4 linked regions of the Homo sapiens genome follow. The protein of the gene in region 3 purifies or fractionates together with the protein of the main gene of each other region. This does not show direct contact. Each region holds a gene or a part of one and is shown on either strand. Other genes may lie near its edges.

What was found.
Region 1: the proteins of GTF2E2 (region 3) and SBDS purify together in Homo sapiens (affinity purification with mass spectrometry; 2 studies listed by BioGRID and IntAct, with this or other methods). This does not show direct contact.
Region 2: the proteins of GTF2E2 (region 3) and UBLCP1 purify together in Homo sapiens (affinity purification with mass spectrometry; 2 studies listed by BioGRID and IntAct, with this or other methods). This does not show direct contact.
Region 4: the proteins of GTF2E2 (region 3) and MCTS1 purify together in Homo sapiens (affinity purification with mass spectrometry; 2 studies listed by BioGRID and IntAct, with this or other methods). This does not show direct contact.

Annotation. Positions count from the first base shown.
Region 1 is NC_000007.14:66,989,829-66,992,656, reverse strand, and holds part of SBDS (ribosome maturation protein SBDS), read left to right. Parts: intron 1-1,355; coding exon 1,356-1,520; intron 1,521-2,828. UniProt on the Homo sapiens protein: Required for the assembly of mature ribosomes and ribosome biogenesis.
Region 2 is NC_000005.10:159,266,220-159,269,844, reverse strand, and holds part of UBLCP1 (ubiquitin-like domain-containing CTD phosphatase 1), read right to left. Parts: intron 976-3,625; 5' UTR 930-975; coding exon 776-929; intron 1-775. UniProt on the Homo sapiens protein: Dephosphorylates 26S nuclear proteasomes, thereby decreasing their proteolytic activity. Recruited to the 19S regulatory particle of the 26S proteasome through its interaction with 19S component PSMD2/RPN1.
Region 3 is NC_000008.11:30,606,145-30,609,769, forward strand, and holds part of GTF2E2 (transcription initiation factor IIE subunit beta), read right to left. Parts: intron 1,007-3,625; coding exon 913-1,006; intron 1-912. UniProt on the Homo sapiens protein: Recruits TFIIH to the initiation complex and stimulates the RNA polymerase II C-terminal domain kinase and DNA-dependent ATPase activities of TFIIH. Both TFIIH and TFIIE are required for promoter clearance by RNA polymerase.
Region 4 is NC_000023.11:120,617,531-120,621,155, reverse strand, and holds part of MCTS1 (malignant T-cell-amplified sequence 1), read right to left. Parts: 3' UTR 1-3,625. UniProt on the Homo sapiens protein: Translation regulator forming a complex with DENR to promote translation reinitiation.

The DNA of each region.
Region 1 (2,828 bases), on a different chromosome or scaffold from region 3:
TTGGGGAAGAGATGGAGGAAAAGGACGGGGTTGTAAAGATAGGTAATTTTTTTTTTTCAAGTAAACACAAATATGTATATAGGACTTTCTTCTTCCTATCCAAATCAAACTTTTAAAGACAAAACTTGAGTTTTTAAAGGGTCATTTTAACACTTCTTTTTGAATTTTTTAATTTATATATAATTCACATACCATAAATTTCACACTCATAAAGTATGTACACTTTAAGTGGTATATTAACAAAGTTTTGGAACCTTCCCTGCTACCTGGTTCGAGAACATTTTCATCACCACAAAAAGAAAGTCAGTATCCATTAGTAGCCATCCCCCATTTTCCCCCCACAGGCCCCTCCCAACCACTAATCTCCTCTCGTTATGGACTTCTCAATTCTGGACATTTCATATAAATGGAATCATACAATATGTGGCCTTTTCATGGTTCATACATGTTGTAACCTGCATCAGCATGTCATTTCTTTTTTATGCCGGAATAATAGCCCACTGTACGGAAAGAAACACATTTTGTTCATTCATCTATCAGTTGATAGACATTGGGTTGCTTTCACTTTTGAGCTATGATGAGCAATGCTGCTATAAAATTTCTTGTATGTTTCTGTGTAGACATATGTTTTCATTTCTGTATACCTGGTGACTACCAAACCTATTTCTAAAACAGCTGCACCATTTTACTTTACCACCATCAGTGTTTAAGAGTTCAGTTTCTCCACATCCTCAGTAATACTTGTCATTGTCTGCCTTTTTGATGATGGCCATCCTGGTGGTATCTTGTCGTGGTTTTGATTTGCATTTCCTTAATGATGATTTGAGCATATTTCCATGTGCTTATTGGTGCCTCGTCTGTCTTCTTTTGAGAAATCTCTGTTCAGGTTCTTTGCCCACCCCCCCCGCCCTCTTTTTGCAAACTCTGCCTCCCGGATTCAAGCAATTCTCCTGCCTCAGCCTCTTGAGTAGCTGGGATTACAGGCGTGCACTACCACACCCGGCTAATTTTTCTTTTTTTGTATTTTTAGTGGAGACGGGGTTTCACCATGTTGGCCAGGCTGGTCTCGAATTCCTGACCTTGTGATGCACCCGCCTCGGCCTCCCAAAGTGCTGGAATTACAGGCGTGAGCCACCACACCTGGCCTTCACTTTCTTCATAGTTTTTTGAAACACAAAAGCTTTTCTTCTTGATAAGTCCAATTTTTCTATTTTTTTTTTAACGGTCACTTATGTTCTTAATGTTATACCTAAGAAACCATTACCTAATCCAACTACATGGAAACTACTTTGTTTTTGAAAACCTTATGAAATAATATAGTAGAAGAAATTGCATTCTCGATTTTGTCTTGGTAGGCTTTGGAAGTGATAAAGCAGTTAAAAGAGAAAATGAAGATAGAACGTGCTCACATGAGGCTTCGGTTCATCCTTCCAGTCAATGAAGGCAAGAAGCTGAAAGAAAAGCTCAAGCCACTGATCAAGGTCATAGAAAGTGAAGATTATGGCCAACAGTTAGAAATCGTAAGAGTCAAATATTTTCTTTGCTTCATGTTACCTAAATATTGTATTCTCTAGTAATAAATTTGTAGCAAACATTTAGATGTTGTAAACGTCAGATATTTTCTTTTCTTTTTTTTTTTTGAGATGGAGTCTCGCTCTGTTGCCCAGGCTGGAGTGCAGTGGTGCTATCTCAGCTCACTGCAAGCTCCGCCTCCCGGGTACACGCCATTCTCCTGCCTCAGCCTCCTGTGTAGCTGGGACTACAGGCACCCGCCACCAAGCCTGGCTAATTTTTCGTATTTTTTAGTAGAGACGGAGTTTCACCGTGTTAGCCAGGACGGTCTTGATCTCCTGACCTCATGATCCACCTGCCTCAGCCTCCCAAAGTGCAGGGATTACAGGCGTGAGCCACCGCGCCCAGCCAGATATTTTCTTAAGACTAAAGGTTGGTCAGCCTTGTTTACCACAAATCCTTTTATTTTTTTCCCAGCATTTATTTTTGTCATATATTATGCGTAGTGTTTTAGATACATGATTTTAGCAAATTTAGCAACTATTTAAAATAAGCCACTTAAAAATTGCTATTTTAGTGGAAGATTGATAATTCCAATTACCTTAAAAATTTTGCAAAAATTAGTACAAAGCACACTATGGAAATTTACATTGAGTTTTCAGAGATAGCTCAATTGCATGCTTTACTCCAGTGCTGATCATAATCCTAAAAGACAATCCCAAATGCCACAATCCCAATGTTGAAATCATAAAAAAATCAAAATCTCTAAAGTCCAAAGCCTGAACTTCTAATATCTTGAAAATCACAGTTCCAAAAGATTGAATCCTGGCTGGGCGCGGTGGCTCATGCCTGTAATCCCAGCACTTTGGGAGGCCAAGGCAGGTGGATCACCTGAGGTCGGGAGTTCGAGACCAGTCTGACCAACATGGAGAAACCCTGTCTCTACTAAAAATACAAAATAGTCTGGCGTGGTGGCACATGCCTGTAATCCCAGCTACTCGGGAGGCTGAGGCAGGAGAATCACTTGAACCTGGAAGGCAGAGGTTGCGGTGAGCCAAGATTGCACCATTGCACTCCAGCCTGGGCAACAAGAGCGAAACTCCATCTCAAAAAAAAAAAAAAAAGATTGAATTCTGAATGATGAAATTCTGAAAGCTGAATTCTGGCAAAAGGATTAGCACTCTTTGAGTTGTATGCAGGATAGTCGCGTCTGGTTAATTGCATCATGTGAGGAAAAGCTAGGACCTTGTTATTGTCTTCATTTGAAAATTAAAAATGGTTTAAAGAGATGAGTCTGGGTGCCAAGTTGATAAGGG
Region 2 (3,625 bases), on a different chromosome or scaffold from region 3:
ATATAAAACCCTAACATTAAAAGGTTTGGTACAGATGTCACAGCAATTTTTGTTGTTTTGTTTTTTCCTACATTAACAAATTGTTTCTGCTGAATTAGTCATATCTAAGACACGAAGAAGTCAAAATTAATACAAGGGTTATTTTCTCCCCAATTCTATGTTAGATGAACACCTTTATTCAACTACCTAAACAAAATTAATTCATGTTTTATTCTGTTGTTCAAGATGAATATTACTGTTTTCCAGGAAGCCTTAAAAATTGAGTGCCTAAGAAAACTGCAGATTTACTGTTACTCAAAACTCACTCTTCAATATGATAATCACAAAACACCATAAAAAAAATCCCTTTTAAACTGGATATGAATGCTGCCTGTAATTTTTAAATGTTGTCTTTACTTTTGAAACAGAAAAGATAATTTGGGAAGAGTACGAGGCCCTCGTTACAACGAAACACTGTGCTAAAAGGTAGATGTCAGAAAATAAATGAGTTTCATCCGGGACTTCTGTGCCAAAGGTTTAACAAGCAAATACTGACTGTCTAAAACATCAAAAGTAATCTTAATAATCATGGTATTTTCGAGAACACTTTAATATTCTTACTTTTACCACTAAAACAATTTTAAGAATATTTCTACCAGAGAAATCTCGAAAGGGAGAGACTTACTAAACTACAAATAGCAAGTATAAATTATTAAACAATTATATTCAAAATAATTATTAAAATTCATAATACTAAAAATTCAATGCAAAAAATCTGAAGAGGGGAGAGAATTACCTTTAACTTTGAGTCCAAGTAACTTTTGGCGTTCTGGAAGAACTCCTGTAAGGGTCTTGAGAAACTGTTTGAGATCGAGCACAGTATCATCTTCTGAAAGTGTGGTCACTGAATACTCCTGTCCACCCCATTTTACAATGATAGGGAGAGCCATTCTTGAAACATATGAGGAAGCAGCTTTCCTTCAGAAAAAAAAATACCTGGAAAGGAAGACAAAAATGAACAAGTTAAAATAGATACTGTTTATTGAAGCCAAACTTTTAAGTTTTATGTGTACAGTTTAAGCCTTATTTTACAACTTATGATAGAGAGGATTTTTGTCCATACAGGAGTGCTACCAGAACACCAAAAGATACTAGGACTCAAAGTTAAATTCCCCCACACTCCTAATTTTTGGCTTAGAGTTACTACTTTCTAATACTCTGAGTCTCACTGTTCAACTGGAAATGTGCAATTATGAGCTACCATTCCTCCTGTTCTATTTGGTCAGGTTGATGCTACAAGCAAGTCCTTCCCTGACAGACCATCCATGTTCATTTAACATTTGAAAGGTAGTGTGGTGTAGTTAAGAACACAGATTCTAGAGCCAGATGACCTGGGTTCAGATCCCAGATCTCTCCCACTTAGCCATCTGACTTTGAGAAGTTACTTGACTCTCAGTGTCTAGGTTTCCTCATCTGTAAAATAGGGATGATGATACTACCTACTTCTTAGGGCTTTTATGAGGATTAACTTAATTAACATTTACAAGGTACATAGTGCCTGGCACCTAGTAAACACTACATAAATTAAGTATTGGTTAAACAAAAATCTTTTTAAACTAAAAGCTTACTATGTTCCAGGCAGGCACTGTGCTAAATAAATAGTAAATAGCCATTCTTTGTTTCATATTTTATGAATTGAAGTTTTTACACAATCTCATTAGAGAAAGTAATTTGGTAAGTTTTCCCTCTTTTACAATTAAGGAAACAGGAGTTTTGAGAGGCTATACAATCTGTACATAGACACATAGCTAGTTACAGAACAGGTCTTCTGACTAAATCTTATGTTTCTTCTCCTCCACAATTGTATCTCTTCAGTTGAACATACAAGAGTTAAGGCATCAAAGATCAGTGTATTAGTCTGTTTTCACACTGCCAATAAAGACATACCCAAGACTGGGAAGAGAAAGAGGTTTAATTGGACTTTACAGTTGCAGAATGGCTGGGGAGGCCTCAGAATCATGGTGGAAGGCAAAAAGCACTTCTTACATGGCAGTGGCAAGACAGAATGAGGAAGAAGCAAAAGCGGAAACCCCTGATAAACCCATCAGATCTCATGAGACTTATTCATTGTCATGAGAATAGCATGGGAAAGACCACCCCCCAAGATTCAATTACCTTCCCCTGGGTCCCTCTCATAACACATAGGAATTATGGGAGATATCATTCAAGTTGAGATTTTGGTGGGCACACAGTCAAACTGTACCATTCTGCCCCTGGCCCCTCCAAATCTCATGTCCTCACATTTCAAAACCAATCATGCCTTCCCAACAGTCCCCCAAAGTCTTAATTCATTTCAGCATTAACTCAAAAGTCCACAGTCCAAAGTCTCATCTAAGACAAGTTAAGTCCTTTCTGCCTATGAGCCTGTAAAATCAAAAGAAAGCTATTTACTTCCTAGGTATAATGGGGGTACAGGTATTGAGTAAATATAGCCATTCCAAATGGGAGAAATTGGCCAAAACAAAGGGGTTACAGGGCCCATGCAAGTCCGAAATCCAGCGGGGCAGTCAAATGTTAAAGCTCCGAAATGATCTCCTTTGACTCCAGATCTCACATCCAGGTCACACTGATGCAAGAGGTGGGTTCCTATGGTCTTGGATAGCTCCACCCCTGTGGCTTTGCAAGGTAAACCCTCCCTCCCAGCTGCTTTCACGGGCTGGCATTGAGTGTCTGTGGATTTTCCAGGCACACAGTACAAGCTGTTGTCAGATCTGCCATTCTGGGGCCTGGAGGGTGGTGGCCCTCTTCTCTCAGCTCCACTAGGCAGTGCCCCAGTAGGGACTCTGTATGGGGGCTCTGACCCCACAATTCCCTTCCACACTGTCCTAGCAGAAGTTCCCCATGAGGGCCCCACCCCTGCAGCAAACTTTTGCCAGGGCGTCCAAGAGTTTCCATATATCTTCTGAAATCTAGGCACAGGTTCCCAAACCTCAATTCTTGACTTCTGTGTACCCACAGGCTCAACACCATATGGAAGCTACCAAGGCTTGAGGCTTCCACCCTCTGAAGCCACAGCCCAAGCTGTAAGTTGGCCCCTTTCAGCCATGGCTGGAGTGGCTGGGATACAGGGCACCAAGTCCCTAGGCTGCACACAGCGCGGGGACCCTGGGCCGGGCCCACGAAACCTTTTTTCCTTCCTGGGCCTCCGGGCCTGTGCTGGGAGGGGCTGCCATGAAGGTCTTTGACATAGCCTGGAGACATTTTCCCCACGGTCTAGGGGATTAACATTAGGCTCCTTGATACTTACGCAGATTTCTGCAGCCAGCTTGAATTTCTCCACAGAAAATGCGTTTTTCTTTTCTACTGCATAGTCAGGCTGCTAATTTTCCAAACTTCTATGCTCTGCTTCCCTTATAAAACTGAGTGCCTTTAACAGTACCCAAATCACCTCTTGAGTGCTTTGCTGCTTAGAAATTTCTTCTGCCAGATACCCTAAATCATCTTTCTGAAGTTCAAAGTTCCACAAATCTCTAGGGCAGGGGCAAAATGTTGCCAGTACCTTTGCTAATACATAACAAGAGTCACTTTTACTCCAGTTCCCAACAAGTTCCTCATTTCCATCTGAGACCACCTCAGCCTGGACCTT
Region 3 (3,625 bases):
AAACAACAACATCAAAGAACTGGAATATTCTGCACATTTTTATTTAATTAACATTTATTGTGAACCAATTACATGTAAGATACTCAATTGGGATTTTCACAAAAATACAATTTCCTAAAACAAGTTCAGGGAAACTAAAGCCCTATCTACCAGAACCACAAGCCTGGATATCTATAGACAGATAACAAAAGGAAAACTTAAGGTTACTGCACAAATCACAAAATCAATTAAATTGATGTCCAATTATTTTCCTGCCATTTTATAAAACTTCAAAAGTAATACAAATTTACAGTAAAATACCACCAACACTTGCTAAAATGGCAATTGGTAAACTTGAATAATACATTTTTCATCACTAAACCCTTGTTTAATGACAAATTATTGACAAAAATTTAAAACTAAAGTCCAAACATACGTATCATATACTTAGTAAGAGATTCAATATACAGCTTAGCATCCAACTCCACAATTTCCAGAAAGAAAAACATCATCTCCTTCCTTATTCAATTTGATAACTGAAAGATTCATAAGATAAGAGAACACTATTCACCAATAAAAGTTTATTCTTTTTCCCATCCTGTATCAAGCTTTTGTATCAGGATATGAACTTACATTTGTAAAAGTCTAAAGATAAAGAAATAAACCCGTTTGGTTCAGTTGAGCTATAAACATTAAGAAATCCTGAACTGCGATTGTAAGTATAATTAACCTAAAATCTTTCAAATCACATATTTCAAATTGCATTCTAAGCAACAATATGTTAGACACAGGGGCCACTGGCTGTGTTCTAAGAAATGATAATGCTAAAAAAGCAATATAAGATTTAAATTATAATTGTATTATAAATATTAATTTTACCACCCTAAAATTGTAATATACTTGCAAACTAAAGTATAATACAGAAAAGCTCACCTTCATCCACAGAAAACTGACAGCTCTTATCATTGAAGAAAAGTATTTTCTTCTTATCGGGACGATTTACAAATAGTATCTGGTCCCCCAAAGCCTTAAAGATAGATAAAATAAAGATTTTTCAGTTAACTCCAAATTACCTCACCAAAAAAAAAAAAAATTTAAACAATAAAGGAGTTTCATTTCCTTAACACACTCAGTATACCACCATAGGGTCCTCCACCATAGGTCCACTGGACCCAATTTTAGTTTTAGTTTTGTTTTTAAGAGACTCCACCCAGACTGGAGTGCAGCTCACTGCAGCCTCAACCTCCCAGGCTCAAGCAATCCTCCCACCTCAGCCTCTGGAGTAACTGGGACCACTGGTGCATTGCCACCACGTCTAGCTAATGTTTTCAATTTTTTGTAGACAAAGGGTCTCACTATGTTGCCAGGGCTGGTCTTGAACTCCTGGGCTCAAGCGATCTTCCCACCTCAGCATCAGAAAGTACAGGGACTATAGGTGTGAGCCACTGCACTCAGCCCCAATTTTAGTTTTTGAGTTTCTTTCTTGAGTAGTTCAATTTTTTAAAAATTGATATTTCCAGACTTGTATTCTTAGAGGTCTTCCAAAGAACAAAAATAAAACGTGTTTCACTTAAAACGGAAAATTCAATCTTTGCTGCAATTACTATTTGGGTCCATGGGGCTCTTTCACTAATCTAAGACACATAATAGAATCTTGGTGTTCTTACTTTTCCTCTACCTTGAGATATTTCGCTCCTTACTCATCATTACCCATCAATTATTTCCAATTGTGCTTTTAAAACGCTAAAATAATAAGAAAATAGAAGAATGATTAAATCACCTAGAAATGTGATGCAATAGTGAAATACATGGGCATCCTTCAGTTTTCTTACTGCATTGCCCAAAGGATTACATTACTCCTTTTCAAGAGATATAAAAGATTGGAAGAGTCTTCTTGTTGTCTTTTAACTTTCATTGAGTACACCTGACAAAAAAAATTTTGTATTTTCTACCCTTGAGAGCAAAGACAAGAAAACTGACCAAAGACATTTCACAATTATTAGATGAATCAAAATATGAATGCAAAAAGCCAAATAGCAGCACTCTAGACTATCTGGCAAAAATTCATCATAGGAATAAAGTCTCAAGCTATGGAGTCTTTAGATGACAATAACTCAAGTGAAGATTCTCAAGCTTAAGAATCAACAAGCGAACAAAATGCTTCTCAATACAAAATGGAAACAATATTCTCATCCCGTTATTCACCAGAAGATTATCACACAGTATTTTGTGAAAAGAATCTTTATCATCTCACTTTGCTAAAAGGATATATGACAGTATTCTTCTTTTTGATGTGTTTTCCAAAAATTACTTGATACAGAAGTTTGCTGTGTTAAATTCTTACTAAAATCTCTAATAAAGCTGTTTTCATCATCCCATTATTCTTACTTATGTAAATTATTCATAAAATGACTTAAAGTAGCTTAAAAATAATAGTCCACTAGATCAAGGTGGTAAAAGGTGATAACTACAGGATGAGCAACCCAAATCCCAAAATCTCGAATCCAAAATCCAAAACTTTTTAAGTGCTGACATGACATGCCAAAGAAATACTTACTGGGGGCCAGGTGTGATGGCTCACACCTATAATCCCAGCACTTTGGGAGGCAGGAGGATCATTTGGGGTCAGGAGTTTGTTTGTTTTGAGACGGAGTCTCACTCTGTCAACCAGGCTGGAGTGCAGTGACGCGATCTTGGCTCACTGCAAGCTCCGCACGGTGGCTCACGCCATTCTCCTGCCTCAGCCTCCCGAGTAGCTGGGACTACAGGTGCCCGCCACCACGCCCGGCTAATTTTTTGTACTTTTTAGTAGAGACAGCGTTTCACCATGTTAGCCAGGACGGTCTCAATCTCCTGACCTCGTGATCCACCCGCCTCGGCCTCCCAAAGTGCTGGGATTACAGGCGTGAGCCACTGCACTCGGCCGAGGTCAGGAGTTTTGAGACCAGCCTGGTCAACATGGTGAAACCCCATCTCTACTAAAAATAGAAAAATTAGCTGAACACGGTGGCAGGTGTCTGTAATCCCAGCTACTTGGGAGGCTGAGACAGGAGAATCTCTTAAACCAAGGAGACAGAGGTTGCAGTGAGCTGAGATCACCCCACTGCACACCAGCCAGGGCAACAGAAAGAGACTCCGCCTCAAAAAAAAAAAAAAAGAGAAAGAAAGAAAGAAAGAAATACTCACTGGAGCATTTTGGATTTCAGATTTTCAACTCTGGAATGTTTAAACTGGTATAATGAAAATATCCCAAAATTTGAAAAAAATCCCAAAATCTGAAACAGTTCTGGTCCCAAGCATTACAGATAAGGGACAGTCAAATTGTACATACATAAAATAAATGAAAGAACCTGAAGGCATTGCTAAAAAAAATTAAAGACATGAATAAATGAATTCTGTGCTCATGTATTAAAAAACTTAATACAGTTACGATGGCAATACTACCCAAAGTTACCTATTCAAGGTAATCCCTATCAAAATCCCAATGGCATTTTTTGCAGAAATGGAAAAATCCATCCAAAAATTTATATCAAATCTCAAGGGACCTCAAAAAGCCTGAAATGGTTTAGATCTGTGTCCCCATCAAATCTCATGTCAAACTGTAATCCCCAATGTTGGAGGTGGGGCCTGGTGGGCGGTGACTGGT
Region 4 (3,625 bases), on a different chromosome or scaffold from region 3:
TTTTAGTAATATATTTTATTTAACCCAAACATATCCAAAATATTATCATTTCAATATATAATCAACAGGAAAGAATAGATAATTTACATTATTTATTAAGTCTTTGAAATCCAGGGTGTATTTTAGTTACAGCACATCTTAATTCAAACTAGTCACATTTCAAGTTCTCAGTGGCCACATATGGATGGGCAGAGGCTACCATATTAGATAGCATAGGTCTAAGCAAGTCCAGAAGTATGAGACCCCCCAATAGCTAAACATGAATGGGAGAAAACTTAGTTTCTTCTAAAAGTTGTATTTATTTTTCTGATTTTCTTGAATGCAATGGAAACTGCAACCTGACTTTTAGCAAGCCCCAGGCCATCTCCTTGCATGACTTTAATCACTGGATTTTTCTTCCCAAAAATTAAATCATTGGATCCGGAGCAAAATGTAGATTAGGCCCCTCAATGTTTTTTCCCTTAAATTATAACTGAACCCAAACTCTTCCTGTCATTAATTTTAATATCTTTTTTTTTTTTTTAGACGGAGTCTTGCTCTGTCGCCCAGGCTGGAGTGCAGTGGCACAATCTCGGCTCACTGCAACCTCCGCCTCCCAGGTTCAAGCAAATCTCCTGCCTCAGCCTCCTGTGTAGCTGGGATTACAGGCACGCGCCACCACGCCCGGCTAATTTTTTTTTTTTTTTTTTTTTTTGTATTTTTAGTAGAGACAGGATTTCACCATGTTGGCCAGGGTGGTCTCAATCTTCTGACCTCATGATCCACCCACCTTGGCTCCCAAAGTGCTGGGATTACAGGCACGCGCCACCATGCCCAGCTAATTTTTGTTTTTTGTTTGGTTGGTTTTTGAGACGGAGTTTCGCTCTGTTGTCCAGGCTGGAATGCAGTGGTGCGATCTCAGCTCACTGCAAGCTCCGCCTCCCGGGTTCATGCCACTCTCCTGCCTCAGCCTCCCGAGTAGCTGGGACTACAGGCGCCCACCACTGCGTCCGGTTAATTTTTTGTATTTTTAGTATAGACGGGGTTTCACGTTAGCCAGGATGGTCTCGATCTCCTGACCTCGTGATCCGCCCACCTTGGCCTCCCAAAGTACTGGGATTACAGGCGTGAACCACCGTGCCCGGCCTTCCCCAGATATCTTCAAAGCAACTGCTAGTCCTGCTTTTGCACATTACACTCTACATTCTCATTGCCCCACTTAACTAACCCTCCCTCATGTCCTTTTCTAAAGATGTAGAAGACTTTGAAATAGCATAACATTTAAATGGTCACAAATCACCTGGCTTGAAAGTGACTAATAATAGGAAAATCAGACCTCAGGACTGAGTTCAATTTCAAGATTCTCCCACTCCACTTTGCTAAGAGGGAAACAGAAAAACATTACTCCAGCCACACAAATATGATACTGTGCAAGTATCCCACTCTTACTCATTCAAATCCTACCCATTTTTTCCCATCGTGGAACAGAGTCTTGCCAACTTATACCTCTCTCCAATAACCCATAAAGATGGTGATTTGAATTTGGGCCAAGATTTAACATTTTATGAAATACAAGAGGAGAGTTTTCTGCAAAACACAGGATTTGCAGACAAGGAGACTTAGGTTCAAATTCCAGTTCTGCCATTTATTACCTCAGAGAGGTCATACAACTTTCCTGAAGTTGTATGACCTCTCTGAGCCTTAGTCTCCTCGTTTGTAAAATGAGAGTTAAAATCTACCTCATGGAATCATTGCTAAGATTAAGCAAGATATATAAGTAGAGCTTGTGCACATGGTAGGTACTTGGAGAATGTTATTTCTCCTTCCCTCTTACTCATCTGGACAAGTTTAACTAGAATTCTAAACAGTTAAATATGTATCAATCCTTTGTATTAAATATCTTGATGGTAAAATGTTAAAATATTGATGTGAATAACAGCTGGTATTGAATATTCAAATTAGGGGAACTCTTTCATTGTTTTAAGATAACATCTGTACATTTAATCTGTGCCATGCAATAAAACAGCTTTTCCTGAAACAGCTTTTTAAAAACTATTTTTAAGAAATTCATAAGTTACTTTTAAGAACATTAGCTTAGAACATCTTCCCCTTTCACAACAAATTAGACATTAGAGCCAAAATTGCCCAAATTGGTATAGTTTCTATCTCCCTACACTTTAATCAAGATGTTTGTCTTTATATCAGCAAAAACCGCTACTTAAGTGAGATTCCTGCATCCCAATAAATGTATCTGGGCATTTGGTACTTGAGAGAGGATTGGGTTTGACAACACCCAGAAGCTAATGAGGATGTGCCTTCTCTCAGACCTTTGCATTCAGGAGCAAGAAAGCAGAAATACTTTGTGGACTCCTTTTCAGACACTTTACAAAATACAAAATTTTAACCTTGTGAAACACAAAATAAATGCAGGATAAATGTCCAAACATTTTAGCCCCTACTGTTTTTGAAACTGAATAAAGCCATGATAGTGAAAAATATTTTCCAGTCAGTGCTTTTTGGAAGCTATTTAGTAGATATTAATTTGATGGGTTAGAGATTGCTATTATCCCATTAAATGAAGCTGTTTCTACTTCATATTCAAATATATTTCAAGTTGAACTTGCTTAAATCTAAAATGCTTACACAAGCAAACTGTGGAAAGAATTTAGTCACGCAAAAGAAAACTTTTTCTTAATCCTGGATAAGTCAACTCTAAGAAAGCTGTCCAGAGCCTACAGAGCAAAAAGGACTTTCCTTCCAGCCTCCTCACCATGTCCAATCTAGTCCAGATGTGAAGAGTCAATTTTGGTTTTAAACAAAATTTGCATGCAGCAGCATTAGAACTAATGAAAACAGTATCCAGACTAAGACGTGCATACAAAATCTTTCACATCATGAGAAACTAAAAATTTGTTAAAACATCAGTCGGCAGGAACAGACATCTCAAGCTCCACTGATAAGGGAAGCAAAACTGGAACTACATGCCGCTTTTAAAAGTGTCTCAAATTTAAGCTCACTCAAGGACTATTAATAGACAGTGTCAAACTGACATGCCGTTTCATCATTAAATCATCTTATTGGTTTGCAAGTTTCCAAGCCTCAGGGCTTCATTATGCATCAGCATAGGACAACACCAGAATTTGGGGACAAAGACAACATCCCTTTTTGAAAGAGGTGGTAAGAATAAAAACAGGTTGGCCAACCTTGGAAGCCACCGCAGTATGGCTTCCCATGAACCAAAAAGGCAATTGAATTGTATTTGTTTTCAAGGCATACGTTTGGAAAAATAGCACTTTTTCCAAGCATGTGCTTAGTTAGAACAAATGATTTATTGCTTAAAACCCAGTCTTTTACTCACACGCTTGTGAAAATAAGAAGAAATTACCTATTTCACCATAGATTATTAAATGGACGTTAACAGTTATTGACAATCGAGTCTTGTGATAAGAAATTAAAATTATAAAGTAAATCTTCCCGTCTTTAAATTCTAGGTGGTAGAGTTCTGAGAACACTTACAATGAACTTTAAGGGAGTAATTGATTATGCTTTTGAAGTCTCCTATATTCACATATTGGCTGAAAGTAAAGCATTTTAAAATTGGAGAATGAAATGAAGAGCAATAACATTTGTTATATGAAAACTGTGG